Linked DNA regions of Homo sapiens: all the other regions are linked to region 1. The links come from fine-mapping of genetic effects on gene expression. A gene starts in region 1. Each other region holds a variant in brackets. All regions are shown on one strand. Distances are from middle to middle. Region 1 holds the start of ZWINT (ZW10 interacting kinetochore protein). Region 2 has its middle 60 kb from the start of ZWINT. Region 3 has its middle 30 kb from the start of MIR3924.

Region 1 (9,758 bases):
CTCTGCTCCTGGGGTCGAGTCGGCTGCTGGGGTTTATCATCTGGAAGATTCTCTGCCTCAGCCTCAGCCTCAGGGAACAACAGCTTACCCTGCAGGGTATACAGAAGCTGGAGGAAGGTCTGATACCTACAAAGAGGAGGTAAGTGTGAAGGAAAGGAATCTCAGCTGGACCATTTTGAATCTGCAGCCCATGCTCCCGAACTTACCTCTGCAGCTTGTCCCGCTCCTGTTCTGCCTGCTGCTTCAGGTTTCCAAGTTTCTGAAACACCCTGTCAAGCTCCTGCTGAGTCCCTGTCTTACGCTCCCTCACCTCTGCAGAAACCTCCGCCAGATGCTGCAGATGCTTCTCCTGCCAGGAGTGAGCATGCAGACATTATGCATCAGATGTTGAAGTCTTAGAAACTCCCTCCAACCCCTCCAGCCTACACCCAGCTCAGGGCTCAGGCTCAATGATGAAAAGAGGGACTCTATTCACTTCAGGGTGGAGTAGGGGCCTAGAGAAAAGGAAAGATCAGAATGAGCTGTTCTAGGGTGAGGCATTCTTGCGGGGAAGGGGCACAAAGGTGATAACACTTATTTAACTTGCTATGTGCCAGGTACTATTTTAAAGTCCTTGCTGTAATGATCATTTAATCATCTTAATAACTCTCTAGAGTAGGTGGTATTATTGCCTTCATTTTAAATAAAGAAACAGAAAGTTAGGTGACCTGCCCAAGATCATGCAGTGGTAAGTGGTGACACTGAGATTCAAGCCCATGTTGGTATTTATATTATAGTGCCTCAAAGGAGGAAGCAAAACGGTTTTCTAGACAGGGGACACAGCCGATACAATGGCATGGTGGTGGGAAGGGATATTCTCCTAGGGGGACGAACCTACCTGTTGTAGCTGCCACTGGTTCTGGACTGCTCTGCGTTTCTCCATGGCCATTTGTTTCTACAGATAAGCAAGGGAGAAAGACCAAGAGAAGTCTATTTTTTCTGGCTAGAATTTTGGGAGATTGCAAGCTGGCACAACTCAGCTTGCTCACTCTTTCCCTCTTCCTTTCTAACTGCCCTTCCCTCCCTGTACTCAAGACCCCTGGGTGTACCTTGGCCTGGAGCTGCTCAAAGGCTTCCCGGAGTTGTGTCCGTTTCCTCTGGGCTTCCTCCATCTGAGTCAGGGCCTTGGTGAGGCCAATTTTGATGGCCTCTACGTGCTCCCTGTAGGTGGCCTTCAGCTCTTTCCATTGTTCCTTAGCTGCAATTGCCTTCTGTCCTGAGATGAGCCACCAGGAATGAGTACATGAGTGAGGGTGGCCTGCTAGCCTGCCTCCCTGCAACACTGGGCCTCCTTCCCATCAGCCAAATGGGAGACCTAACTGAAATCCTCCTTCCTTCCCCACTCAGGTCAGCTGCTACTACAATCCCCTGCCTACTCACGGCTCGTGTCTTCAGAAGCCAAGGGGTCGAGACCCTTAGCAGTGTCCTCCTGAGCCAGGATGTTCTGCAGGAAATCCGCTACCTGAAGCTGGCTGCAGAGCAGCTTGTCTTTCTTCTGAGAGTCCTGCTCAGAGGGAGGGCAGAGACAGGGAACATCCTTACCTCCTTACAGGTTTCCTTAAGTCTGCTCTCTGCCAGTGCTGCCCTGTATCTCAGTAAGAGGAGCCAGGACCAGACCCTGGCTTCTGAAAGGCTCGCTCTCATCTTGTACATACCACCACAAACTCAACCAGGATCTTGGCTGGCAGTTCTGCCTCCTCCTGCAGGCCTACAGGTTCCAAGATGCCTGCCACCTCAGCCAGGACCCTGGAGGGGCAAGGAAACACAGGAAATTGCAGTTTCTTGTGGTGCTAGTTCTACAGTTCGTGTGTGTACACAAACAAATGTGGATGTGTATATCAGTATATATAGTATTGAGAGTCTTGCCTTGACCAGAGTTTACACAAGGGCCTGAAGGGTCCACAGCCTGCAACCAGGAATGGCGTGCATGGAGGGCACACGGTGGTAATACGTGCCAAAAGGAAAATCAGCAGGGCTAGTGGATAAGGAGTTTGAGAAAAGAGCTGAAATTTTAAATAGGGAGTGTCTCACTGAAGAGAAATCATTTGAGTCAAGATGTGAAGGAAGCCAGGGAGATATGCAAGGAAGGGGAAGAATGCTGGGCCTTGGGATCCCTCCTGGCGCTGAGCACCAGCCTTGGGGCAGAGTCTTGGAATAGCTGAGAAAGGACTCAGGGCAGAGGGCTGGATGCCTCGGTCTACTCTAGGGTTTTTCATTATTAGGGACTGGAGCAATCTACGAAGGGGCAGGGATGGGGATGAGAAGTGACTGGGAATGTGTCGTGTTGGGACAAGAAGACAGAAGTGAAACCGTCTCCTAGAGCACATCCTGTGGATTATGTGGATGTGGGGAGCGGCGAACGGTCCCCCAAAGGCTGTACTCCTGGAGCAGGCAACAGACACCTCAGGAACCTAAGACGGGACTGCGGTGAGGATCACTTCACGGCAGGGTCGAACCTCAACAGCTGTACAGGGTCGAGGGCACCAATCATTACACATAGGGGCCCACAAGGTCCTCCCAGGCCCGGCCCCAGCTGCCACTTAGCCGCAAACACTTACTCTAGGGCTGCAGCTTCCGCCTCTGTCTCCGCTGCCTCCATCTTTCCAGGCGCCGAGTTCAGCTGCCTTCCCACAATCCCTAAGATTACTTTGAAGTCACAGTCGACTTCGCGCCGGGGCAGGCGATTGGCTGCAGAGGTTAGTGGGCGGGCATCAAGGACCATTGTGCGCTCTAATTGGCAGGCGCGGATTCGCTCGTTGGCGGGCCTCGCTGCTTGGCGCAAGCGCGGTTATGGCTAGGCGCGCACGGGCTCTGCGCCTGCGCGCTAGTCCTTACGCGGTGCCAGAGACTATAAGTGGGCTTGAGCTCGACCGCGCGCCTGTGGAAGTTCTTTCTCTACTCGAAAAAGGGAAAGCATTTCCTTGAGTTTGCGTTTTAAGGGAAACTTACAGCATTGACACTTTATTTAAAATATTCACTACTGCTGTAGAAAAAAAAAAACAAAACCCCGAAAAACAGTGGGGCTGTTTCTAAGACGCTGGGAATCAGTAAAGAATAGTGATCCGGGAGATACAGGAAGCAAATGATCTGCGCTCAAAAAGCGAGCTGCTTTCAAAGATATTAGTATTTTATAGATGCGATGCAGGAGAGTGAACTCAAGCAGAGCCCAGCCGATTGCCTGCGTTGGCAAAATAGAACAGATATTCTGGGGAGACCAAGGTAGGTAATGTTCTTTGCAGAGTACAGGAGAAAGATAACTGCTGAGAGAGAACTTGGTATTCATTCAGCTGAGTACTGAGCAGTATGTGTCTCAAGAAACTAGCTAAAAGATTTTTAAAGATACCAGGACATGGCCGGTCGCGGTGGCTCACGTCTGTAATCCCAGCACTTTGTGAGTCTGAGGCAGGTGAATTACGAGGTCAGGAGTTTGAGACCAGCCTGGCCAACATGGTGAAACCCCCGTCTCTACTAAAAGTACAAAAAAAATTAGTTGGGCGTGGTGGTGGGCGCTTGTAATCCCAGCTATTCGGGAGGCTGAGGCAGGAGAATTGCTTGAACCAGGGAGGCTGAGGTTGCAGTTAGCCGAAATTGCGCCACAGCACTACAGCCCTGGTGACAGTGCGAGACTCCGTCTCACAAAAAAAAAAAAATACATATATATATATATATAAATATATATATATGGACATTACAGAGGGTCAGAAATAGTCTCTATTTCCACTAACCAGGCTGGAAAACTTCATAGTCCGTAGGACACTGGACAGAGTACACACAAAAAAGTCTTGATTTGATAGTTGTTTACTAATTATTTAGTAGGCAGTAATTAGTCCTAGCTGATCAGTGCTGTAGTGCCATCTAACTCTTAAAAGTAAGACCCAAATGGATCAAACTTAACAAACCATGACAGATGACAAGACCAAACTTCAGCAGTATTTATAGAAATAGAAAAATGTTCACCAAAGGTGCAATTTACATATGTCATACAAAGAAAAATTACCAAGCTTGCAAAAAGAAAAAAAAAAACACATAATGAGGAGAAAAATCAATTGCTGATCAGAACTGAAGTAATGTTAGAATCAACAGGCAAGGACATTAAAACAGTTATTGTAACTATATCCCATATCTTCAAAAAGATATCAGAACTATAATGAAAAAGGTAAGTGGTGCTAAGGATGTAAAGAAAGTGGAATTCTCATGTTGATGGAAATGTAAACTGGTGCATAGGCTTTGAACGTAGGGTTACCATATGAGTCACAATTTCATTCCTAGTTATATATCCAAGACAAATAAAAACATGGGGACACAAAAGTACACAAACCTCTATAGCAGCATTATTCACAAAAGCTGAAAGGTAAAAACAACCCAAAGGCCCATTAGCTGGTGAGTGAAAATGCATACTTTCATTCAATGAAGTATTAATCAGTAGTAAAGAGAACTTTATTACATGCTAAATAATGGTTACTACATGCTAAAATATGAACCTTGAAAATATACTAAGTGAAAGAAGCTAATTACAAAAGACCACATAATATATTATTTCATTTATGTGAAATGTCTAGATTTGACAAATCTATAGCAACAGAAAGTAAATTTATATAGTGCTTGTCCAGGGCTGGGGATTGGTGGGAATGAGAGGTTGAGAGAGTATGGGGAGGGACTGCAAATGGATATAGTGTTTCTTTTAAAGGGATAAATAAAATGTTCTACACTTCGGTTATGGTGAAGGTTGTACAATTCTATACAGAAAACCGCTAAATTTACACTTTACTGCTGTCATAAAAGCTGTTAAAAAAGTTAATCAAAGACACAAAGCTTGTAATAAAGACCTAAATCAAACTTGTAGAGGTGAACACTACAATGTGATAGATGGAATTAGATGGTATTAATATAGTATGTTACACATTGCAGAATGAAAGTGAAACACAGCTCTAGAGAAACTACCCAAAATCAATCACAACATTAAAAAATGAAAATAAAGTAACATGAACAAATCAATGGTGAGCTGTGAGACAACTTCTAACAGCCTAATAATATACTTGAAAGTGGAGTCTCAGAGAGGCAAGGGGAGAGGACAAGAAAACAAGTAATAAAGACCAAAAAATTTGAAATGTGATGAAAAATATAAATTCATATATTCAAGAAGCTTCACAAATCTCAAACACAAGAAATATTAAGAAAATGACATCAAGTTATACCATAATTGCATAACTCAAAACCATTGATAAAAAATTCTAAAGTAATAAGGGGTGTTGGGGCACATGTTACATAGAAACAAAGATAAGGATTACGGGAAATTTCTTCTTGGAACAATGCAAGCAAGACAGTAGAGTAACATCTTTCAAGTACTGTAAGAATAAAAAAAAGTCAACCTTGATTTCTGTTTCCAGCAAACAGCTTTCAAAAATGAAGACTAACTAGGCTGGATGCAGTGGCTCACACCTATAATCCCAGCACTTTGGAAGGCCGAGGTGGGCAGATCACGAGGTCAGGAGATCAAGACCATCCTGGCTAACACAGTGAAATCCCCCGTCTCCACTAGAAATACAAAAATTAGCCAGGCGTGGTGGCGGGCACCTGTAGTCCCAGCTACTCGGGAGGCTGAGGCGGGAGAATGGCATGAGCCTGGGAGGTGGAGGTTGCAGTGAGCCAAGATCGTGCCACTGCACTCCAGCCTGGGTGACAGAGCAAGACTGTCTCAAAAAATAAATAAAAATAAAAAAGAAGGCTAACTAAAGACATTCTTAAACACACAAAAATGGAAGGAAATTTTCAGCATAAGATCCCACATGAAACAAGAAGTTCTTCAGGCAGAATGAAAATGGCATTAGCTTCAAATCTGAATGTATACAAAGGAGTGAAATGTGGTCCTGGCTACTTAGGAGTCTGAGGTGGGAAGATCACTTGAGCCCAGTTCAAAGCTGTGATGAGTTGGTCATGCCATTGCACTTCAGCCTGGGTAACAAAGTGAGACCCTATCTTTAAAGGAAAAAAAATTGTGATGTGGGTTTTATAACATATGTAAAAGTAAAATGTAGCACAAAGTGTGGGAGAGAAGAAATAAAAGTAAATTTATATGCTTGTATAGTTTCTCTGAAGTTTTGTTATCAGTTGAAGGTGAACTGATGAGTTAAAACTGTGTTCTAGACTCTCTGAAGCAATAGTGCCAACACACTTTAGAAGGGCTACCAGTGAGTCATTTCCTTGTGTGATTTCTTTCTTTCTAGTGCAGATAGAAATTGTGACCAATAGAATACAATAAAGGTGATGGGATGTCATTCTATTGATTAGGTTGCTTGTTAGGCAGAGGGGATAGCATGCCACTCTCATGCCTCCATTTCCATGTATAGCAGAAGCTTAGCAGACTGCACAAAAAAAAGAGGGATTCTCCTTCTGGCCTGGAAGAAGCATACAACCATGTTGTAAGTTGCCTGTGGTAGTTATCACATGGCAAGGAACTCTGAGTGGCCTTTAGGACCTGTAAATAGACCTGAGCTGATAGCCAATGAATAGATGGGGCCCTCAGTCAAACAGCCCTGAGGGGATTAAGTTTCTACAAATAATCAAATAAAAAATAACGCTACTCAGTTAACATCGTGATTGAAAACTTGTGAGACCTTGAGCAGAATGCAAAACCTTGACCCAGTGAAACTGTCTTAAAATCTTGACTTGTAGAAACTGTGAGATAATAAATGTGTTTTTTTAAGATTCTAAATTGTGATAATTTGTTACATAGCAATAGAAAACTATTATAAACTTCTAAAACAAAGAATTGTAGGTAACAAATCAATAAAGGAGATAAAATATAAACAACTAATCCAAAAGAAGGCAGAAAAAGTGAAGACGAACAAAGAAAAAAATGAAGAGAATAAAAAACAAATAGCAAAATGATAGGTATAAGCCTAAGCATATGTGTTATCACCGTTAAATGTAAATACCTTAAATATACCATTAAAAGGGAGAGATTATTAGATTGGATACCACAGCAAAATTACGTTAAGTACACTAAATATAAAGAAATAAAAGGATGGAAAAATACCATGCTAATATTAATCAGATGAAAGCTGAAGTGGCTATTTTAGGGCATATATATACACACACACACACACACACACACACACACACACACACACACACATATATATGTATATCTATATATATATATCTATATATATATAGATATATAGATATACATATATATATTTGGGCAAAAGGCTGTCACCAGAAATAAGAAAGTGATATTATCATGATAAAGGGGTCAATTAATCATGTGAACTTAATCATAAATGTTTTTGGACACCTAATATGAGATCATCAAAATACATGAATCAAAAACTGAACTGCAAGGAGAAATAGATAAATCCATAGTCATTGTTGAGATTTCAATAAGCCACTTACAATAATTTATAGAACACTGAACCTAACAGCAGAATAGTCATGCTTTCCCAGTGTATACCCAATAGTCAAGTCCATATTATGGGTCATAAAATTAGCCTGAACAATTATAAATGAATAGTACAATGCAAAATATATAGTTTTTTTGTTTGTAAACGATCTAAATAGCCTCCTACATGCATTGAATGTGATGTTGTATGCTAATGTTGCAGTCTTTTTCTTTGACTTAATTAACTCCTAACATCTTTAGATTTCTGCTCAAATTTTTCAGACATGATCTAGATTATTGTTCAGATTTTTCAGACATGATCAAACCTTCCTTCACCTATATGCCTATATCAGGCCTCCTTACTATAGGCTCACAAAGCTCTACAGACTTTTTATCTAGTCACAGTTGCATTTTACATCTGCTTGTAGAATTATTTGAGTGATATCTCTTCTTTTCTAATAAGCTTATTGAGGATAAATGCTATTTTTTGTTAATAGTTGATACTAATAATTTGTTCTATGCACATAAGGGACAATTCATGCAAGGCTGCAGTAGGTCATTTTAAGCATATTGGTTTTATATAAACATAGTAGAAATCTATTGAAAGTTTCTTCATAATTAGATGGCAAGTCAGATTTTAGTATTGCAAAGTTAAGCCTCAATTATGGGTGGAAAAATAAAAGGTTGAAAAATGTGATTATTCCAGTAGGCTTAGTAAAAGGTGAAAACATTTTTGGATTCTATAAGTAACTTGGCACTAAAGATACAAATAGCTCGATATATTTAGGTGAAATACTTCATAGGTTTTATCATTTGTTGGATATGTTGGAGTTACTAAACGATGTATAAAATATGTTACTTCAGTTTCTGATGGTGCAACTGGATGAACTGTGATACAATTTATTTAAATAGTGATTCCTGGAAGATAATTCTATTTGACAAATGACAGAGGAAGATTTTCAACTTGATTTTGTTGACCTACCTATTAGAGGCATTTTAGCTATTCATGTATATATTTTTAAAAGACATTTGAATGTGTCTTGAATGGATAAGGAGGTTTAGGGCTTGGAAAAATGTGAGAACTGGAAATATATATTTGATCAACATAAATATGTAGGCAATTGAAACTGTGGAGGTCAATGGCATTCCGTATGCTGACTATAGAATGAACAAGAAAAGAATGCTGGAATCAATATAGTTGAGTAACTGACATATTGTGGATTTGTAGAAAAAAGATGAGTTTCTAGTAACAGAGAAGTACCTACAGTGACAGAAGCATTAAAGGAAATAAATTGAGATGCGTAATACAGAAAATTCTTAGGAGAATTTTCAGCAATTTTTCATTAGCCAATGTTTTAACGCTCTCCATTGCAATTTGTATTGTATGCATACTTCCAATTTAATGAAAAATGCTTTTCCTATGCATTCCATAAAGAATCTTCTTGCTTGACTAGTAAGAGTTCATTCTGCTTGATGTGTCTATGTTTTAACACTGTCTACATATTCTACATTTATGTTACAGTAGAGATAATAAATGACACTTGCTAAAATGCACATTTTGATTAAAGTGGCAGGGATTGGCTTTATGTGTGAGAGTTTAGATACCTTTGATCTATTTATCACAAATTCCTATGAAGATACTGCCTTTTGAATAAGATATTTTCCAAATGTATCAATGACATCACTGTTAACATCCAAATTTAAATAGTGTTTGATTAAACTGAAGACCAAACCGTTCAAGGATAAAACAACAAATTGCAAGTCAAAATGACATGCTACAAGGTGACGTTGGAAAATAGGACTTTAAACATCATACTGCATAAATTTGCCAACTCTATTTCCCCCTCTACTTGGCTCTGATTGGGAGAGATCTGGCCTAAAATTCTAGTGAAAATAACTGTAGATCAATTAAAAGGTATAAGTCTATGTCTTACTTTTTTCTGTGTTGTCCAATACGCAGCTTTTATTGTTTAGCACATATGAAATGGCTCTGAAAATAGTAGTTGCATTAACACTTAAATAGAATATCAACTATATTATTAGAATATATGAAGTGAGCATGGAGGCAAATTCATGTGAGATTTATAGAGCATTAAGCAAATATAAGTAAGCAGATAAAACTTATCTTTGCATTTGTCTATAGGCAGAACACCTCCAGTACTTAATAAAACATCAAAACTGACATCATACTTTTGGAATCTATTTCTATTGCATAGAAACTTCTGTTTGCTGTGTTTATCTCTCTCAGCATTGTTTTAGGAATTGAACCTATATTTCCAGATCATCACTTCCTTGAGGCAAGATCATCTAAATGGGTCATGGAAACCCAATAAATAAA
Region 2 (10,383 bases), 63 kb before region 1:
ATTTTATATTTATGGAGCATCAGATTTCAACACACATATAAGTATATTATAATTGCCCTTTGTAATTGAGAGAAACATGAATCCACTTGGACAGCATGGAAAGTTTACTACAGCCTATAAAAAGGCCACCTCACTAAACCCCAGCTAGGCATCAGCACAAACAAAATACTAGAATATTTTCACTTTTTCCTCTCTTTTTAAATGTAAAAAAAGAAAAAAAGTCACATTTCTACCAGATATGTTATAAGGTCATATAACAGCCTTTATGAGCTATTGACTCAAGATAACTAATCCCTGAATTTAAAATAACATATGAAAATGCCGTAAATACTGGACCCGAAGAAAATATAATGGAAGTAATTTGTTTTGGAATACACACCACCTGAGATATGCCCTATTCTAGTATATCTTTAGTACCTCTTCTAGATGCCAAGTCTCCTCTTGCTATTATCAGTAACTCAGTAGGCCACTGGGAATTTGCAGACATTAAGATACATAGTTTCTATTATTTTCCTAATTTCCTGCCCTAGTCATCCTTCACTAACTTACTATGCAATAATCTTTATATTCTACCCCACCAATGTCTTTTAATATAATAATACAATAAGTTAAATTATTTTCCTGCTCCTGCTAAAGCTAGTCAGTGCATTACTTGACTAGCTTCAGCCATTATGAGAAATCGTTAAATAAAATGGGATTAGAAGGTCTTATCTTGGCCCTATTACTTATTCGCTATCTGGAATAAATAAATAAGATATCCTAAACTTCATTTTCCTTCTCTAAAGATTGGAGATAATAACTATTTCTTTGTAAAATTCTTACAATTATTTATCATAAATATAAAATGAAACAGAGTATCAAAGATATGTGTAAACAGTAAAATGTGAAGTAAATAGGTAACATAAGTAGGTGATACTATAGGCTGGCAATTACAGACTGATTTCTGGGCTTCCAGGGAGGTATTTTTTACTTGGAAAAAAAAAAGAAAATAGACAAGAATTTCTCATCCTTAGCCTTGGGAGCTTGTCTTCCGCAATGCAATAAATCTACAGGTTTCAAAATAAATCACCATTGTTGCTGTGTCAAGGCTGATATTTGCATAAGACCTCTCTGCCTTGGGCTAGCCCAGAACACTACAGCATAGGCAAGCACCACAGCTCCCTAACTCTCAGAGTCCATATAAGGCTAACTACTGTGGGATCTGTTCTGCCATCTCTGTTTCTTTAACTTTGCCTTCAGGATGCCAACAGTGTTCCCCAGTAATTTATTTGTCCTATGATATTACTTGTTATTGAGTGGGTGGTTAAGGATGTAAAAATTATTTTTTCTCATTTTGAGAGATTTTATTTTCTCCCATAGCCATCATTATTAAGGTGTCAAATGCTGTACTGAGTAATATTAAAACCACAATCTCATCTATTTCTTATTACTTTAATCATATAACATAGTGATTACTATAATTCATATTTTACCAGTGAGAAAGCTAAGGCACAGATGAATTCAATCACTTATGTGGCTAATAATGCTACAGCGGGTTTGGAATCCGAACATCAAACTCCAGGGTTTAAGCTCTTAACTTTATCATATTGTTTCATATTTTCCAAGATAATCACTGACAGTTAATAAGTCTGGTCCCAAATTATTTGTTTATGATTGTTAGGAATAAAATGTTAGGTAAAAATACTGCACTAAAAGACATCATCTAGTCATTAATTTTACTCCATTTCTCAGATTTAGGGCCTTAATATTTTCCCCTTAGTAATATTATTTTTTTAGTAATTTATACAAACCTCTTTAGAGTTAATCTCATGTATTTTAATAGCAACAGTAGATCAAAATCATTGACTGCTTAGAAATAATGGAGAAATTTTAAATTAAATTTAAATCTTAAGTGTCCAATGTTGACACAAATGAGAGACACATCTACCTTAATTATGAAGTCTGTTAAATTACTCTCAATTGGAAGACTATCTAGCAATTTGTTTCTAAATCAGTTGGTCACAAGAGCTTATTTGAGCTGACTAAAAGTCAGCATAACATTTTTAGAATAATTTTAACTTTGTTTCCATAGCAATAGTTTTGTATGCAAGATAATGCCATCAATACCCAGGGGCTTGTAGTTTTTGTTGTTTATAGACATCAGTGTTACCTATGAAAAAATCATGTGTCTGAAGTACTTGAGTTTTTATGTAAAAATCAAAGCACTATCTTATTTTAATATGTCTATCATTCTCTTCTTGAATAGGATCGTTATGTTGAATCACATAAGTTAATTCTTCTTTGCTTTACTTGATGTTTTTATCTGAAGTGCAATAAGCATCATTAGTAAATATTATTCTATAGATACTGGTATTGAAGACTAGGTGAATTATACAACTCTAAATATGATACGGAAAATGTGAATAGATTGAAACATTTCATAAAAAACAGCACATTTGAAAAGAATGTGAAGATTTGGACAAACTCAATATGAGTCACATTGATAGATAAAGTATCTTCACCACTCCTGTCCTCTATCTTTAATGAAAGTATTCTGTCCTAAGAACAGAAAGGTAGACTCCTCAAATTTTACTAGTCAAATCATGTCTTAAGTATGATGTTCACTTTTAGCTCTTATTCTGAGACAAACTAAAGAAATGTAGTGAAGAGAGTTAATTGTCGAATATCTTAAAACAATTCAATTGTTAAAGAAATGGAAGAGGTATAGGTTGGGGGTGAAAATACACAACAATGGATTTGAAGATCACAGCTCTCTTCAAATTATTGAGGACTTGCTCTTTGTGTCTTTTGAGCTCAGATAGAGTCTCCATTAGTTATGTGAAATTATACGGAAGTAATTTTTGACACCAAAGAGGACTCTGATGTTTACTTCCTCTTCTGTAAGTACTTCACTGGATCATTATATAAATCCTGACCTTTAAAACTCCAACATATTTAATAAATACATATATATTTAAAAAATCAGTCTTTTTAATAGATGAATGAGTTGTGGTTCAGAGAGGAGAGGTAACTTGCCAAAGTTCACGCAGCTCCTAGTTGTTGGAGTTTAGCTTGTACTGCCTGTGCCGTGTTTCTTTCTTTGTCCCAAGCTACCTCCCTATAGGCTCTTATACTCTGAGGAATGTTATATGGACGATACTGGTACTTTTTTCTTCTTAAGTTTACAAAAGAAATTAAAAGTCTTTTGGATTGCCTCAGTTTTCAATAAAACTCCTTCTCTATTTAATATTAATTGTTTGAAAACATTTCCCAAGCATACACATTTTTATAACCAAATTAGGAATATTGATTTTAAAAATCTTCAAATTTCCTTACAATATATAGTAGGTGTCCCCAACCCCTGGGCCACAGACTGGTACCACGCTGCAGACTGGTAGCTTTCTGTGGCCTGTTAGGAAGTGGGCTGCACAGCAGGAGGTGAGTTGCAGTTTAACTAGCATTACCGCCTGAGCTCCGCCTCCGGTCAGATCAGCTGGGCATTAGATTCTCACAGGAGCAAGAATCCTATTGGGAACTGTGCGTGAGAGGCATCTAGGTTGCACTCTCCTTATCAGAATCTAACTAATGCCTGATGATCTGAGGTGAAATAGTTTCATCCCGAAACTACCCCCGACTCTGTCTGTGGAAAAACTATCCCCACAAAACCTGGTGCCAAAAAGATTGGGGACCACTGATATGTAGGGTTCCAATTATTTTGGAAGACATGAATTAAGAGACTGGTTGAAGTTCACTAGGCGTTCTTTGCTTCTAAGGTAGGTACTGTGTTTCTTTAAATTATGCTTCTATAATGATTTTACAAAGGGTTAAGTAACTGAATAACTAGTTCTATTGTTAAATATAATGGATTTATGTTCATTTCTACATTGTTCCTTTTATGAAATACATGTCTTTCCAATATAATGCATTTTGTTTTCAGATTTTCTGGGTCACAAAATCCTGAGTTTATTTGTCTATTTTAAGTGAGGGTCTGCAAACTAATTCTAAATATTGCCATACTTGCCCATAATGATTTACAGAAAATCTGTAGTCAATATTTGCTCAATAAACAAACAAATTTTAAAAGCCTCTTATATCCAGTGTAGCATGTATTAGTGACTGTTCTTCAAAGTTCCTAGTTCTATTCTTAAGTTAATTGTTATAAGCAATATAATGTGTGTGTGTGGGGGGGGGGTAAAATAGGTAGG[G/A]TTAAGGAAGTAAAAGAAACAGGGTTACAACTATCTTGATCAAAAAAAGAGCAACTGAGCCAGCTTCAGAAATTGATTTTTCCTATTGCTATTGTTGATTGATTAATAGGATCAACTTTACTTGGTTAGTTCTTTTATAAAAGGGTGGCTAGTTATACAAACAAAGATTGTGTTTTAAACTCATTACTCTCTAAATATGATCCTCAACTCTCTGATTTAGAGTGAGCTCAAGTTACTAATCCAACAATTCACTTGACTGTGAAAACATCTCATGCAATTCCAAATAAAATAATATGACATTACTATGCAAATATATTGTCTAAATTCTGTGATATGGTACCCCTGCAGAGCTCTGACCTAAATGGATTGAAAAAACTGGGAAAAAAGTAAACTGATTTAATGATATGACTATAGGATCAGTATATGTGTGTATATAGAATTAGTTTTGAAAATGCAAAGCTATTATTATGAATAACATAATAATACCTTTGTACTAAGTAATATTTATTCTGAGCACTTGTCTGGCCTTGATAAGATACACTTCGAGGCATTAGGGTACTTACAAAACAAAATATATTGCATATTTTGTTTTATTGCATAAAATAAATCCATGTATTCCAGATCTCTTACCTGTCACATAAATTAAGCCACAAGTTATCTTTAAATGTTTGAATATGTAATACTCATATTTAGAACTACTAATAAAATAGGTTATAAAAATAGAATTTTTTTATTACTTTTAACTATTAAAGACTTCATATTAGCTCTTATCCTGATGGTTGAAAAGAAGGTCCATAATTTTACTGGCAAAAATAATAAAAATAAAAACATATATATAGTCATCCCAAATGATAGCAGTCTTCAAGGATAAATACATAAAAAAAATTATAATGTGTTTTATTTAGATATGTATATGCTGCATCTAAAGGTGGATCCATAGCAAATGAGAGAACCTGTTACAACTACAATGAGAACATATTTTTACAGTAAAAAGTATCTTTGGAAATCATTGGTTGGTTAATTTTCATTTTCTTTACATCTAAATTACACTATGTTATGGTAACTATGTATGGCAATTAACATCCCTTTTTTGTGGCAGGCAAAATTCTAAAATGTCTCTCGTGATTTGCACACCCTGGCATTTCTCCCTTATGTTATTGCACTTGGCAAAAATGATTTTCCAGATGTAATTAAGGTCATTTGCCAATTAATGTTAAAAGGAGGAAATTATATGAGTAGGGCTAACCTAATCACTTGACCCTTTCTATAGAAGACGGTCTGATCTTCAACTATGACTCACACTGATCCCACAATAGTCCTTCTGTGATGCACATCTAATCTTCTGCTTATAACCTTTCCACGTTAATTATAGCTTTCAGAATAAGATTCATAGATATTTGTTTATCACACATAACAGTTCGTAATTTTCTTTTATTCTTTTTAGACTCATCTTCTATCATTCCTTCAAACACATTATTTTTTTCAGGTATACTTCAGTACTTGAATTTTGGAAGACATTTTTGTTTCACAAGTCTGTGTTTTATGTTTCAATATGTTTGCTCCTTCTCCTACTACTCTCATAGTCCTTTTACTTCTATACTGTAAACATCAGTTTACTTATCACTCTATGTCATTTGATGCTGACTGAGTTCTTTGAGGATGCCTACTGCCAAGCAACAGTTTGATACCTTGTGATCTACTTTATCAAATATTTGAAGAGTCAGAAAAAAAAGACAGGAAATAAGAAAAACCAGTATTCATATAGGGCTTTGTATCATGCCAGGTGTTTTCATTTTGCATAATTGGTACTTTGAAAGAGAGATTAAAGCAAAGTATCAATACTACTCTGAAAAGAAACCAAAATAATATTAATGCAGCTGATGGACATTGACTTAAGCCTTAAAAGAGAGATAAATTTTTTAGTAGTGTGAATGATATTATAGGACATAAACCAAGGTACTAAGTCAGGAAGGCACAGATTGTGGTTAGGGAATAGAAATATAAATTCTATTTTATTAGGCATTTACATATACAGTATTGAGAAATAATGGTAGTATGTAAATAGATTTGGGTCATGATGTATAATGCTTTTAGGAACAAGTAGGAAAATCTATAATTAATTCTAAAAGCAATAGGAAGTCAGTGAAGATTACTTTTCACTTTTTGAGACTAATTCTCTGTTTAGGAAAATTATCTAAAATTCTCTTTCATCACCCAAAAATGAGATTTATCAATATCCAACTTTGAAATTTTATTTAAATGTAAGAATATTTCAAATTATTACTAGTAAGGGAATCTATAAAATAGTTGTGTTTTCTGTTAGCTCCACTAATACATTATAAGAAACTTGGATGTACCTTTTATCTTTTCTCCCCAAATCACCTAGCACATTGTCTTATTCAGATAAGATGATCAATAAACATTTTCTACATTCAACATTCCTATGGTGTGCTAGTCATCAAAATATTAGCATTTAACAAAATACACTTAATTCAGAAATGTAATGAAATCCAGCTTACTCCCGTTTTTAAGTTTTCCCAAGGTACTCCAGAATTTTGTAGATATCTGAATAATTACTGTAATATCAACTGTCACTCTTTATAATTAAAAAATATGCATACATGAGATTTTTCCTGTTTTCATTTCTTAATGTATGTAGTACTTATTAAGGAGTCTTTGTTCAAGGAACAAGTCAGAGTTAGACCTATACTTATGAAATACTGCCATTCATATTTACCTTACTATTTTATACTTTTAATCTATTTAAGATGTTTTGTACATTTATGATTCTACCAAAAAATTCCAAGAGTTTTCTATTGAGTGTACCAGCTCACAGGCTCTTTAGAAAAGAGTTCTTATATTGCTGCATTCTGTTATCCCTATAGGCATTTTTTATACTTGTTCTACCTATATGTACTGCTGTTTCTGTTAGTAGGTTGGAAGAATGACAACTTTGTGCATCAAAGCTATGCAGGGAAGTTGGTAGTGCTCTTTTACAGTTAACATAATTCTTGCTGTTTTTCCAGTCCTCTGTCCTCTAGGCTGTGTTGCATACATAATAATGCAAGACTGGAGGACACCAATAGCATCTGCAAATGACAAGATACCTTCAGATGAAGCCTAATTCCAAAAAGATTAAATAGTTATCCACATGTAGATTATATAAACTTTTAGGAGGTAAGTATTGCTTCAATAACTGACCTCATTAATACAATTGCCATTATCAACTGCTTAAATTAAAAAAAAATCAAGCCAATGAAAATTTCTTGAGCATCTTTTATTGTGTGAAGTATTTTCCTGGGCGACTAGGGTAAAATACATTAAAAATATATGTAGATATACATACCTTCTGGATTGTGGCTAAGATTATTTTCAAATTATCACTATTGTGTCTTTGCATCTTTTTATTTTTCCACTTTCACATTTCTTGTGGTTAAAGCTTATATATTTAAGAGAGTTCAGTTTAGTTTGTTGTAGATGTAACACATAAAAGAAAGTCATAGGTAGACTTTTTATGTCTATTCATCAATCATATCTCCAGCACTGGATTAACAGGCCAACAGATATGAATGAACCTCCCAAGAGGATATGCAGGTCATGTTAACCAGTGCTGAGGGGAACATGAAAAGTAAATGAATGTATTCTTGTCCTCATGGTGCCTATGCTTTACCTGACTCTTACTTGTTACTCTCCTAAACTAGAATGGAATACCTACTTTGAGGTGGTATTACTTATTTAATTTAAATAAGTACTTATTTAAACTCGGTACCGTTGAGTCCAATATACTCATTTTATAGAAGATAAAACATTTTCTCATTTATAGATGGAAATGGTGGCAGAAAAATGGAAGTGTAGCTAATTACTAAAGGCAGTCTATTAGGCATTCAGCTTGTTGCCTAGATTGTAGATTCTAGATCTATATTCTAGATTCTAGATTATAGATCTAGATTCTAGATTTGTACTCAACTTCCCATATCAATATTGCCTACTAATTCTGAACTCAGAGGAAGGTATATTAAGTGAACTTCTGGCAGCCCCACAATCCCCAGATGGCTCTACTTGCAGCACATATTAAGACACACACACATACACTCACCCACAGTCTATTCATAACTAACTAAAAAATGAAACAATTCAAGGAAAACCAAATCAAAGTGTACTTTGTATAATATAAGTAAGTGCTACTGTCAAATATGTGTAGCCTGGAGTATCTGAGAAAGAGTGTAGGTTTCCTTTCTGAGCTATGTTTCATAATGTCCTTTCTGAGCTACATTTCATAGTCATCTAGCAGCCACAATGATATCTTTATGAGAAACACCTAGTGTTTCAGATGAAGCCTAATTCCAAAAAAATCCAATAAATTGCATGGCATTTAGTTTGAATTCAAAAAATGAAATTTCTTGAAAGAAGTTTTTGTCATGCTTGGAAGCCCAGTGGGTGATAGAGTCTGATATAAGCAGTTAGGGTAGCTGGTTATTATGAGGATTTCTGTTCTCAGTTAACTTATTGCCATCATCCGCTTCCTAAACTCATTTGCAGTCACCAGCTGTCAAAGGGAGGTTTTACATTTAGCAATAAGAAGCTGCATCTGGACACCAGATTTCTTGTAGTCTTTAGAGACATCTATCATATCCTCTTTAGAAAAGAGAATAATCAGCTCAGTTTGAGTTGTAAAATTTTTTCAGAATATTTATTATGAATTTATTTTATTTATGTATTTATATGTGTATGTTTGTATATGTCTATATTATGTATTTACACATGCATGTGCCTATAATTTTATTTTCAGATAAATCCAGAATTCATAATTTTTTATTATTCCTAGAAAATAGTTATTGAAATTTTTAAAGAGATTGCTATGTATAAATGGCTATCTAAAATATAGTCTATTCATTGATTATCTTTCATTTCTGAATAATGAGTTAATCAGTAGTGTGAACTTTGTATGTAATTGAAGGTAAAATATTTAAAGTCAACTTCTTTAACAATTTTAAGTTACTTTCAATGGAGAACACATTATAGTAGATTCTTGATGCTTTCAGGGAACAGATCTTAATACAATTGTGATTCTTATTATTCGTCACCACTGTGATAAATGTTAATATATCTAATGTGATAGGCTATAATCTAGATCATTTTTTCCATACATAGTAAATTAAGAGAAACAGTGCAGCCCTGAGTTGCAGATGTGAGCTGTGCCTGGATTTTTTCTGTTGCTCTGCCTCTTACTTTACATATTGATCTTTTTTTACATTTTGTGATTCAGCAAAATGCTAAACAGTTACATAATATTGATCTTCATGCTCACTCTTAATCAATTTCACAAATGTTAATCCTAAAATAATTACTCTGGCAAATTTGAGTTTCTTTTTAATCATTTCTTATTTTTTATAAGTTTCAGGTTACAAGGACATAACCTCTAAATAAGTAAAATGTTACTGCCCCAAACACATCGATTGAACATTTTCAAAATGTGGGTCATTTGTGGAAACCCAGGGCTAAAGATTATAGCATTCGAAATACATTCCTAAAGGATACAGCATGCTGAAAAGAAATTCAGTGTAAGGTGATCTGACAGGCATGTGTATTACTTAAATTATAATTTTCTAAAATCATATCTTTGAGTCTTTCATGGGAGCCAAAAATAAGTTTAAAATGTGCTTGGTAATGCATCAAGTAACAATTAATAAATATTTATTAAATAGGCTTATCAAAGCTTCATCAAATTGATTAATAGAATGACTTTTAGAGTCAAATGGACATAACTTTACATTTTGAATTCAATATTCACTTGCTGTATAACATTGAAAATGCTACATAATTTTTCTGATTCTCAGTTTCCTCATGTAAAAGCAGGAATATAATTGTATTTTCAAAATTTGAAAGTCTTTAAAGGGTGCCTGGTGCATTATCAAAACCTTCAACATTCTAAAATCTGTTAACAAAATTGTGTATGTGTACAAAATTATGCTAATTTATGAGAAAAATATTTAAAAGTACTAGAAAAGGATTCTAATCTTGAAAATCTTATAGTCTGATGAAGGTAAAATATATGTACAAGATATAATTTATCATGTTTAGGAAACATATGGAATGAAATAATTAAAATTTAGCATCTACCTTTCTGCATGACGAGAATGGCCTAATCTTCATCTTTGTTGGTCTACTAGTTTGCTATTTGTAATCTGTTAAGAGCTTT
Region 3 (10,383 bases), 910 kb after region 1:
CATAGCTTTTATCTGTGATGATATGACATTACAAAATTTCGGAAAATCACCCCTGATTATTACCAACCTTCTTTAAAGATCAGTGCTGTGGGACAGGGTGAAATGAGAACATCTCACAGTTACGTGCAGGTCAATCCAACATGTTGTGTATAAGATCTTACACAGACAGAGATTTAATATTAATTAAGACATAACCTCTGCCCTAAAGAAGATGGGGTCTAGCGGTGGAGACTAAAATATGCACAATTATCTGTAATGGAAAACAGTGTGTGAATAGGCAAGGAAGACAGCAATTGCCAGAGGGTCAGCAAGTCAAAAACTAATCATGAAAGTAACACCTGAGATGGGGCTCAATACCTGATTAGCATTTCAGTAGGCAGAAATGGTGAAGGAAATTCCAAAATTAGAGAAATAATAAGTAAAACTAAATGGGTGAATATGTGCAATATATTACAGGAGATAAGAAATAATCTGGTAAAAATGAACTGTAGCCTACGTGGCATTCAAGTTAACTTGGGTCCAGACCTAAAAAGCCCTGCCTAGCCACGTCACACCATTTACTGAAACAACGGCGGAGCTGCGCTTTATGCATGTGTATTTTTAATCTAATTTTGCTTTGTGTTTTCTATAGAGAAAGAATTCAGACGCCAGGCGCGGTGGCTCACGCCTGTAATCCCAGCACTTTGGGAGGCCGAGGCGGGCAGATCACGAGGTCAGGAGGCCGAGACCATCCTGGCTAACACGGTGAAACCCCGTCTCTACTAAAACTACAAAAAATTAGCAGGGCGTGGTTGCAGGCGCCTGTAGTCCCAGCTACTCGGGAGGCTGAGGCAGGAGAATGGCTTGAACCCGGGAGGCGGAGCTTGCAGTGAGCCGAGATCGCGCCACTGCACTCCAGCCTGGGTGACAGAGGAGACTCAGTATCAAAAAAAAAAAAAAAAAAAAGAATTCAGAAAAAAATGAATACATTTTTCCACACATCTTTTTCCATTCGAAATACAAAAGCTTAATTGAAGCTCATGGGGAAAAATATCCATTTTACAGCTTTAATATGTTAATGAGCAAAGGCTATTGTTTCCCGGCCCTCAAACTCATTATCAAGGCTTTATTTTGTTTTTATAACATTTTTTCTTTAAAAATTTACAAAGATAATATACAAACACACCATTACAAATAATGTAAGCAGTTGCCATGTGTATTGACAAATTTAAGACAATAACTTTACAACTAACTCATTCTCACTCCATCCCTAGAGATGAAAAAATGTTTGATATGTATTCTGAGAGTATATACAGTATATATTGTACAAACACATTTTCTTTATGTAAATGTATATGTAAATATACATTGTTTTGCACCTTGAAATTCTATTCACCTAACAATGCTATTTCATTGCTCACTTTTCTGGTATTAAGCTTAAGAAATAAAGGGACTCATCTTGCCTTCCTCCCTTATTTCAGGGTTCATGTTACTGGTGTCAAAGGCCTAAATTTTTTTTCCCAGTATTATAGCTATTTATGATAAAAGGCAAGTCAAAGTCCCCCAGGAACTCTCTTTCCAGCTTTTCTTAAATAAAATTGACTATTTCTGCAACATAATCTGAATATCAGTAGTTTGAAGCCTAGCATATCACTAACTAAAATACTTTCAGATTAAAAAATTAATTGCATGTTAAAAGGCCAGGAACAGTACATGTTGTGGATGGAAACTCCTATTGTTCTTTATTTCATTCTTTTTTTCTGATTTTTCTTCACATCAACCCTTCCCCTATCAAGGTCATAAATTTAGAACCTCTCTTTTAGGTATGGCTAGCATGCAGAGTCCTCTAATTTTGCTAACAACTCTTAAATGCAATTTTCTTATCCTTTTTCAAAGTATTTTACATCTGAAATTCTCATCTACTCAGTTCTTCTCATAGAAGAGATTGGCGCTCTCCAGCTCAGGCAGAAGTTTTACCAGAAATGGGAGAAAATTCCAACACCAAATTGACTAAATCTCATTTATGGTGAAGAATCCCATTTGAGAAGCCTGCTGGGGCAGTGTAGAGATAGTCAGGCTTTACGGAAAAAACAGGAAAAATATTTATTACAAACTATTCAAGTTTTCCTATTATTTGTGATTTTACTACAGCAAAGAAAGATAAGTACTAGTGACAATATAGGTAATATACTCCGAGGGATGGGTGAGCTGAGAATGGAGTGAGAAAATAAAAACAGAACAGATAATTTGGAGCATTTCATTAATATGTACTGATTGTGCTGTACTGGGCTGGTACCTAGAAAAATTATCTTTGAGAGACAGTCCATTTAAAGTAACATTCTCCTTTAATGGTTTGTATCTTAAATTCTAATTACCATTGTGACAAACTGGGACATTAGTACATTTGTATTAGTATTTTAAATTAGCATAATAATTGTACATATTTATAGAGTGTAATGTGATATTACAATTCATGTATACAATGTAATGATCAAATCAGAGTAATTGGGATATCCATCACCTCAAGTATTTATCATGTCTTTGTGTTAAGAACATTCCAAATCTTTTCTAACTATTCAAAAGTGTACAATAAATTATTAACTATAGTTATCCTACAATGCTATAGAACACTATAACTTACTCTTCCAAGTCTAGCTATAATTTTTTATCTTTTAACCAACTACTCTCTAACTGCTTTCCTGCCATCCACAGCCTCTAATAACCACTATTCTACTTTCTACTTCTATGGATCAACTTTTTTAGCTTCCACACATGAGTGAGAATATGCAGTATTTTTCTTTCTGTGCCTGACTTATTTCACATAACTTAATGTCTTCCAGGTTCATCCATGTTGCTGCAAATGACAGGATTTTATTCTTTTTTATGGCTACATGGTAGTCTGTTGCATATATACACCATTTTTTTTATTCATGTGTTGATAGACCTTTAGGTTGATCGTGTATCTGGGCTATTGTGAATAGTGTTGTAATAACCATGATGGTGCAGATATCTCTTTGATATACTGATTTTCTTTCTTTTGGATATATACCCAGTAGTGGGGTTGTTGGATCATATAGTAGTTTTATTTGTAGTTTTTTGAGGAACTTCTATACTGTTTTTCATAATATCCATCCTAATTCACATTCACACTTAAATAAGACAAACTTGGTGAGCGGATTTGTTTTTCTAGGAAAATGACACATAGGTAAAATAATGACAATTATTTGAAAATTAAGCTTTCAAATTTCTCAAACCCCATTTTGACCCCTGCAGTGACCTTTTACCTGTTGGGTCATTGTGATTGAAGGCTTTTGGTTTTAAGAGTGCCAAATATCTTGGATGAGTGGGATTGGACTAGGTCAAGTTAAAATGCTACGTAAGTGTTTATTGCTATTCTTAAGGTCCTTCAGAGATTTACATTGATTAAATTCTCCTCAGATATGAAAAGCTTTGGCTAATTTCCAGGGTTCCAAAAAGTTGAATTTGATAAGTTTGCTGGTATTCTTATTGCTTTAACAGAGAAGAGGATTTTGGAAGTCCTTATTCTGTCATTCCTAATGATGTCACTTTTCACTTTGACCTTCAAGGTATGCAGCAAGACAAATTTATTTGGTTCGGAATTATGCTAGTTTATTTATTCATTAATTTGCATATTTAACAATATTTGTTTTAAAAATATTTAATCTTGTACTTATTTATTCTTATTTTTCTAACATATAATTGGCTAATTAAATGTAGATGAGTATGAATGTATTTGTTTGTTTTTCTCAGTGCATAGGTGAGTTTCTAGGGGTAAACTAGGAACTTGTAGAACAACTTTAGGCCCTACTAGTGTTATATAGCACAGAGTAGTTTAGAAGAATATACTTTTTATAACCTGGAATTTCACTGCATGTATGAGTGGAAGTAAAACCATACATTTTACCCAAATGTAATTACAAAATATCTTTCTCATGTTTACATCCAGGAATAAATATGGCAAAAATTATTCATTTTTAAATTGAGTAAGATGGTCATTCAGGCATATCGTTGAATATATTTCTGTATGACATGCAATTTATTTTATCACTTTAAAAAGTCAATTGACCACTTTTATATTAGTCATACCTAGAAAGAGTTAGCTGCAGAGAAATACGAGATATTTAGTAAAGTGTTATACAGTAAAGCCAAAACACCCACCTCATAAAATATCTTATGCAGTTGTCCAATTACAAAATAAAATTTTCTCACATTGTCCTTTCTTCTAGGTTGTTTTACAGTTACTAAATAGTTCAACTATTGGCCAGTAAATAACTATTGGTAGATTCATTATTATATGCTACTATTTCTCTATGGAAGTGATAACCCTATGTAACGACAGACTAAGAAAAAAGAGAAATGACTCATAAATAAAATCAGAAACAAAAAAGACATTCCAACTGAAACCACAGAAATACAAAGGACTGTTAGAGTCTATTATGAATAACTATGCACTAACAAATTAGAAAACATAGAGAAAATAGA[T/A]AAATTCCTGAACACATAAAACTTACCAACATTGAACCAGAAATAAATAGAAAACCTGAACAGATCAATAGCAAGTAATGAGATTAAATCAGTAATAAACAGCCTCTCAATAAGACACAAGCCCAGAACTGAATGGCTTCACTGCTAAATTTCACCAGACTTCAAACAACAACCAATACCCCTGAGACCAAAACCAGGTAAGAACATAACAATGTAAGGAAAGTGCAGGCTAACGTCCCAGATGAACAAAGATGCAAAAGTCCTCAAAAAATATTGCAAATCAATTCCAACAGTACATCAAAAAAATTATACCTATGATGAAGAGGGATTTATCCCAGGGATGCAAAGATGGATTGTACACATGAAAATAAATGAACATGATATATCACATCAACAAAATGAAGGACAAAAACCATATGATTGCTCAACAGATGTAGGAAAAACAGTTGATAAAATTCAATATTCCTTTATTATAAAAACTCTCAACAATTAAGCTTGGAAGGAATGTAGCTCAACACAATAAAGGCCATAAATGAAAAACCCCAGTTAACATCTACTGAATGAGAAAAAGTTGAAAGCTTTTCCTGTAAGAACTGGAATAAGAAAAGTTTGCCCTTGCCCATATTTACTGCTCTTATTTAACATGCTACTAGAAGTCCTGGCCAGAGCAATTAAGCAAGGGAATGAAATGAAGGGCATCCAAATGGGAAAGAAGGAAGTCAAATTGACCCTGTCTGCAGATAATATGACCTCATGTAGAGAAAAATCTAAAGATTCCACCAAAAACTCTTAGAGCTGATAAACAAATTCACTAACATAAAATCAACAAACAAAATAGGTAGCATTTCTATATACAAATAACAAACTAGCTTAAAAAATCAAGAAAGGGATTCCATTTATCATAGCTAATATAAAAAACCACCTAGGAATGAATTTATCCAAGGAGGTGAAAGATTTCTACAAGTAAATCTGAAAATCACTGATGAACAAAACTGAACAGGACAGAAAAAAATGGAAAAATGTCATATGGTCATAGACTGGAAGAATTAATATTGCTGATAATACTATCCAAAGCAATAGGCAGATTCAGTGCAACACCAATCAAAATGCCAATGACATTGTTAACAGAAATATAAAAAAATCCTAAAATTTGTATGATACCACAAAAGTCCTCAAATAGCAGAAGCAATCATGAACAAAAAAAATAAAGCTGGAGTCATCACACTGCCTGACTTCAAAATGTCATACAAAACTATAGGAATCAAAACAGTATGGTACTGGCATAAAAACAGACACAGGTAACAATGGAACAGAATACAGAACCCAAAAATAAAGCCATGCATCTACAACCAACTAATTTTTGATAAAGTTGTCAACAATGTATGTTGAAGAAAGAACAGTGTCTTCAATAAATGATGATGGAACAACTAGATATCCATATACAGAAGAATGTAACTAGACCTCTAACTCTCAGACTTCTAACTCTCATGTAAGAGCAATTAAAAATGGATTAAAACTTAAATATAAGACTCAAATGTATGAAGCCACTAGAAGAAAATATAGGGGAAATGCTTCAGGATATTTGTCTGGGTAAAAATTTTATGAATAAGACCTCGAAAGCAGAAAACAAAAGCAAAAAAGACAAAGGGGATTACATCAAGTTGAAAAGCTTCTTCACAGCAAAGGAAACAGTCAACCAAATGAAAGGTAACATAGAGAATGAGAGAAAATATTTGCAAACTATTCATCTGACAAGGGATTGATACCCAGAATATACAAGGTACTCAAACAACTCAACAATATAAAAACAAATAATGCAATTCAAAATGCACAAATGATCTAAATAGTTCTCAAAAGAAGATATAGCAAGTTTTTATTTTTTTAAAAAAGGCTAAACATCACTTATCAGCAGGGAAATGCAAAGCAAAACCATGAGATGTTATTTTATTTTTTATAATGGCTACTATAAAAAATACAAAAATAACAAATGCTGGTAATGACGCAGAAAAAAAGAAACTCTTATGTAAAGTGAAAAGTGACATTATCAGGAATGACAGAATAAGGACCTCCAAAAGTCCTCTTCTGCATAAAAATGATAAGAACGTCAGTGAAATTATCAAAATCAACTTTTTGGATCCTTGGAAATTAGCCAAAGCTTTTCACATCTGAGGAGAATTTAATCAATGTAAATCTCTGAAGGACCTTAAGAATAGCAATAAACACTTAATGTAGCATTTTAACTTAACCTAGTCCAATCCCTCTCATCCAAGTTATTTGGCACTCTTAAAACCAACAGCCTTCAATCACAGTGACTCAGCAGGTAAACAGTCACTGCAAGGATCAAAATGGGGTTTGAGAAGTTTCAAAGCTTAATTTTCAGATAAGTATCATTATTTTACTTATGTAGCATTTTCCTAGAGAAAAATACACTCACAAGGTTTGTCTTTGCTTACATAACTTGCAGCTCACCCTGTGCTAACATTTTCCTTGAGTCATTTGTCAATGGAAATCAATGACAGTTGTTTAGCATTATCATTTAAATGTTAAATTAAGGTTGTTATTTAAAATATGGCAAAATGTAAACTAATTCAAAAAGTTAAAATAAATAGCCAAGAAATAAAATTTTGGAGGGGCTTTGAAAACCTCTGGCATATTTCTGTTAATTTTGAAGGTGGTGCACATATGTAGGCTTAAGTATATGATGAGGGCTGTGTGCACATTAAGAAAACACCTAAGTTCTCATTTCTGGCTGAACTTGAGGCCCTGTACAAATAGAAATTGAAAGTTAAGGCAAAGTTTTGGGCTGGCCCTTGAAATTAACTAAAGGATTTCAAAAACCTTGGAATTTTTTTTCAAGAAAAATGTTTAGTTGTAGATAAGAACAGAGAGAATAACAGCTTCACTGAACATTGAAGGTATGCCCCAATACATACCTACCTCCTTTGCAGAGAATGAGAAACGCTGGTTGCAGGTATTTAAGAAAATCTCTTTAACTGACCACTCATTAATCAACCACTAAGCTAACTGAATAGAGATTTTTAGCAGACCCACATGAGAATGAATACAGATTTTAAAAATGACTTGTCACAAAATAAATATTAACAATGACAACAAATAACTATAAAAAGAAACAACAACAAAACCTAAGGATGGGAGATAATCTGTATTTCAGAGTTGGAACACTATATATTATATGAAATGTCAAGTCTTCAATTTAAAAATCATGACATGAAAGGAATACAAAAAAAAGTCCCATACAAAAAAGAAAGACAACAAGAAATGGCCCTTAAAGATTCACAATTTTTGATCATTAGTCAAAACTTTAAAATCACCTATTTTCAATATTTTCAAAGAAATAAGCCACATTTAAAGAACTAAAGGAAAGTATACAAATGATGTTTCATCAAAGAGAGAATAATGATAAAAAGATAGAAATAAAAAAGAATGAAATAAAAACTGTGAAGTTGGAAAATATAGTATTTGATAGAAAAAAATCACAGAGAAGCTCAACTAAAGATTTGGGCTGGCAGAAGAATGCATCTGATAACTTGAGAGGGATGAATTGAGATTAGCCATTATAATGAACAGAAAAGTGAATGAAGGAAAATAAACAGATCCCAAGGACCATAAGAAACGTTATTATGCATATCAATTTATACATAATGAGAACCCTGAAAGAAGAGGAAAAAGAGATGTAGGGTAAGAAACAATATTTGATGAAATAATGATTTAAAAAATTCCCAAATTTCATGAAAACCATTCATCTGTACATCCAAGAATCTCAGTGAACTGCAAGTGGGATGAATTCAAAAAGATCTAAATCTTCACACATCATAACAAAACTTTCAAAAGCTAAAGAGGGTATCTTGAAAACAGCAAAACAGAAACAACTCATTATTTACAATGCGCAGAAAAAAAAGTCTGACAATCAACAGTTCTACTAATATATGAATAGAAGTTAATCCTTCAAAAATAAAGAGTTTTTCAGATAAACAAAAAGTAAAATAATGTACTACTAGCAGACCTGCCCTACAAGAAAAAATGCTAAAGAGAGTCGTTTCGGTTGACATGAAAAAACACTAGAGAGTAAATCAAATTCATGTGAAGCAATAAAGATTACAAGTAAAAGTAACTAGATAGATAAATATTAAAAAAATATATTTTTGTTTGTAATTGTTTGTATCCCATATCTTCAAGACAACTACACAAAGCAATAATGATCACTGTTTATTTCTATAAACTCGCAATGAACAATACAAAAATGAAATTAAGAAAACAATTTCATTTATAATAGCTTATAAAGAAAAATTATATATCAATAAATTTAAATCAATGCAAAACTTGTATACACAATACTACAAAATAACATTTTGATAAATAAAATAAATGTAATTATAAAAAGTAAAATAAATTGAATGATATCCTTCATTTCTGGATCAGAACACTTAATATTATTGAGGTGGTAATTACTCCCCACATTGATCTGCATATTTAATTAATCCCCTTCAAAAGCACATAAAGCATTTTTGTGGAAATCAATAAATTGATTCTAAAATTCATATAGAAATGTTAGAGACACAGAAGAGCCAAAAGAACCTTGAGGAAGAAAAAGCTGTAGGACTCACGGATTCTGATTTTAATGCTTGCTAAAAAAAAAAAAAAATCAAAAACACAGAAACAGAGAATAAAAAGTGGTTAAGGAGGTGGGGATGAGGAAAAAATGGGGAGATAAAGGTCAAAGGATACAAAATAGCAGATATGTAGAATGAGCAAGTTTAGAAACATTGTACATAGTGAGGTCTCTACTTAATAGTATTATACTGTATTCAGGACTTTTGCTAAAAGAGTAGATTTTGGGCACTCCTGCCATGTACATACAAAATAGGTAACTGTGTACAATGATGAATATGTTAATTTACTTGACTTTAGTAATCATTTCACTATATGTATCTCAAAACATCATGTTGTACACTTCAAATATATAAAACTGAAGGTATAATATATAAAACATAAAGCTTCCTAGGAAGTTACAGTAATTAAGATGTGTGCTACTAGCATAAGTTATATGAAATATAACTTATATGATATGTTATATATATCATATATCAATGTAACTTGTAAGTTATCAATATAATTTTTATGATATATAGAAGTTATATAGCTTATGTGACATATGTAATGTATATATAACACATAACTTATATGTTATATATAACTTAACTGCACTGTATGTATGAAAAAATGAATATTGATATATATATAAAATAATTGGGACTCGGGATCTCTCATATTTATGGGCAATTATACAAAAACACTGCCAAGATAATACAACGGGGACAAAGAACAGTCTTTCCAAAAATGGCGCTGAGACAACTATTTATCCACATGGAAAAGAATTGGAACCCTTATCTTATGGCATGTACAAAAATTATCTAAAATTACATCAAGTTCCTAAATGTGAACACTCAAACAGTAAAACTCTTAAAAGAAAACAGTGTATTTTCTTTCTTAAAATTTTTATTTTATTTTACTGTAAGTTCTGGGATACATGTGCAGAACGTGCAGGTTTGTTACAAAGGTGTACATGTGCCATGGTGGTTTGCTGCACCCATCAACCCATCATCTAGGTTTTAAGCCCCACATGCATTAGGTATTTGTCCTAATGCTCTCCCTCCTCTTGCCTCCTATCCCCCGATAGGCCCTGGTGTGTGATGTTCCCCTCCCTATATGTGTTCTCATTGTTCAACTCCCACATATGAATGAGAACATGAGGTGTTTTGTTTTCTGTTCCTTTGTTAGTTTGCTGAGAATGATGATTTCCAGCTTCAACCATGTCCCTGCAAAAGACATGAACTCATTCTTTTTTATGGCTGCATAGTATTCCAGTATGTGTGCCACATT

The links. PIP is the estimated chance that this variant, and not a neighbour inherited with it, causes the effect.
Region 2: its variant is fine-mapped to the expression of ZWINT in subcutaneous fat (GTEx, PIP above 0.99).
Region 3: its variant is fine-mapped to the expression of ZWINT in whole blood (TOPMed, PIP above 0.99).

Annotation. Positions count from the first base shown.
Region 1 is chr10:56,358,599-56,368,356 of GRCh38, forward strand. It overlaps ZWINT (ZW10 interacting kinetochore protein), which reads right to left and starts at 2,661. Exons shown (of 9, transcript NM_007057.4): 1 at 2,598-2,661; 2 at 1,695-1,785; 3 at 1,420-1,543; 4 at 1,089-1,255; 5 at 878-934; 6 at 207-349; 7 at 1-126. The coding sequence starts at 2,638. LOC124902546 (a long non-coding RNA gene) reads left to right here and starts at 2,861. Exons shown (of 2, transcript XR_007062372.1): 1 at 2,861-3,258; 2 at 5,427-6,121. RefSeq lists enhancers at 546-1,745, 891-1,631, 2,371-3,110, 2,459-2,628 and a silencer at 2,719-2,928.
Region 2 is chr10:56,295,702-56,306,084 of GRCh38, forward strand. No RefSeq gene overlaps it. Among named protein-coding and RNA genes, the nearest start is that of ZWINT, 60 kb to the right of the region's middle. The variant G/A (reference allele first, on the strand shown) is at 4,185.
Region 3 is chr10:57,269,539-57,279,921 of GRCh38, forward strand. No RefSeq gene overlaps it. Among named protein-coding and RNA genes, the nearest start is that of MIR3924, 30 kb to the right of the region's middle. The variant T/A (reference allele first, on the strand shown) is at 4,483.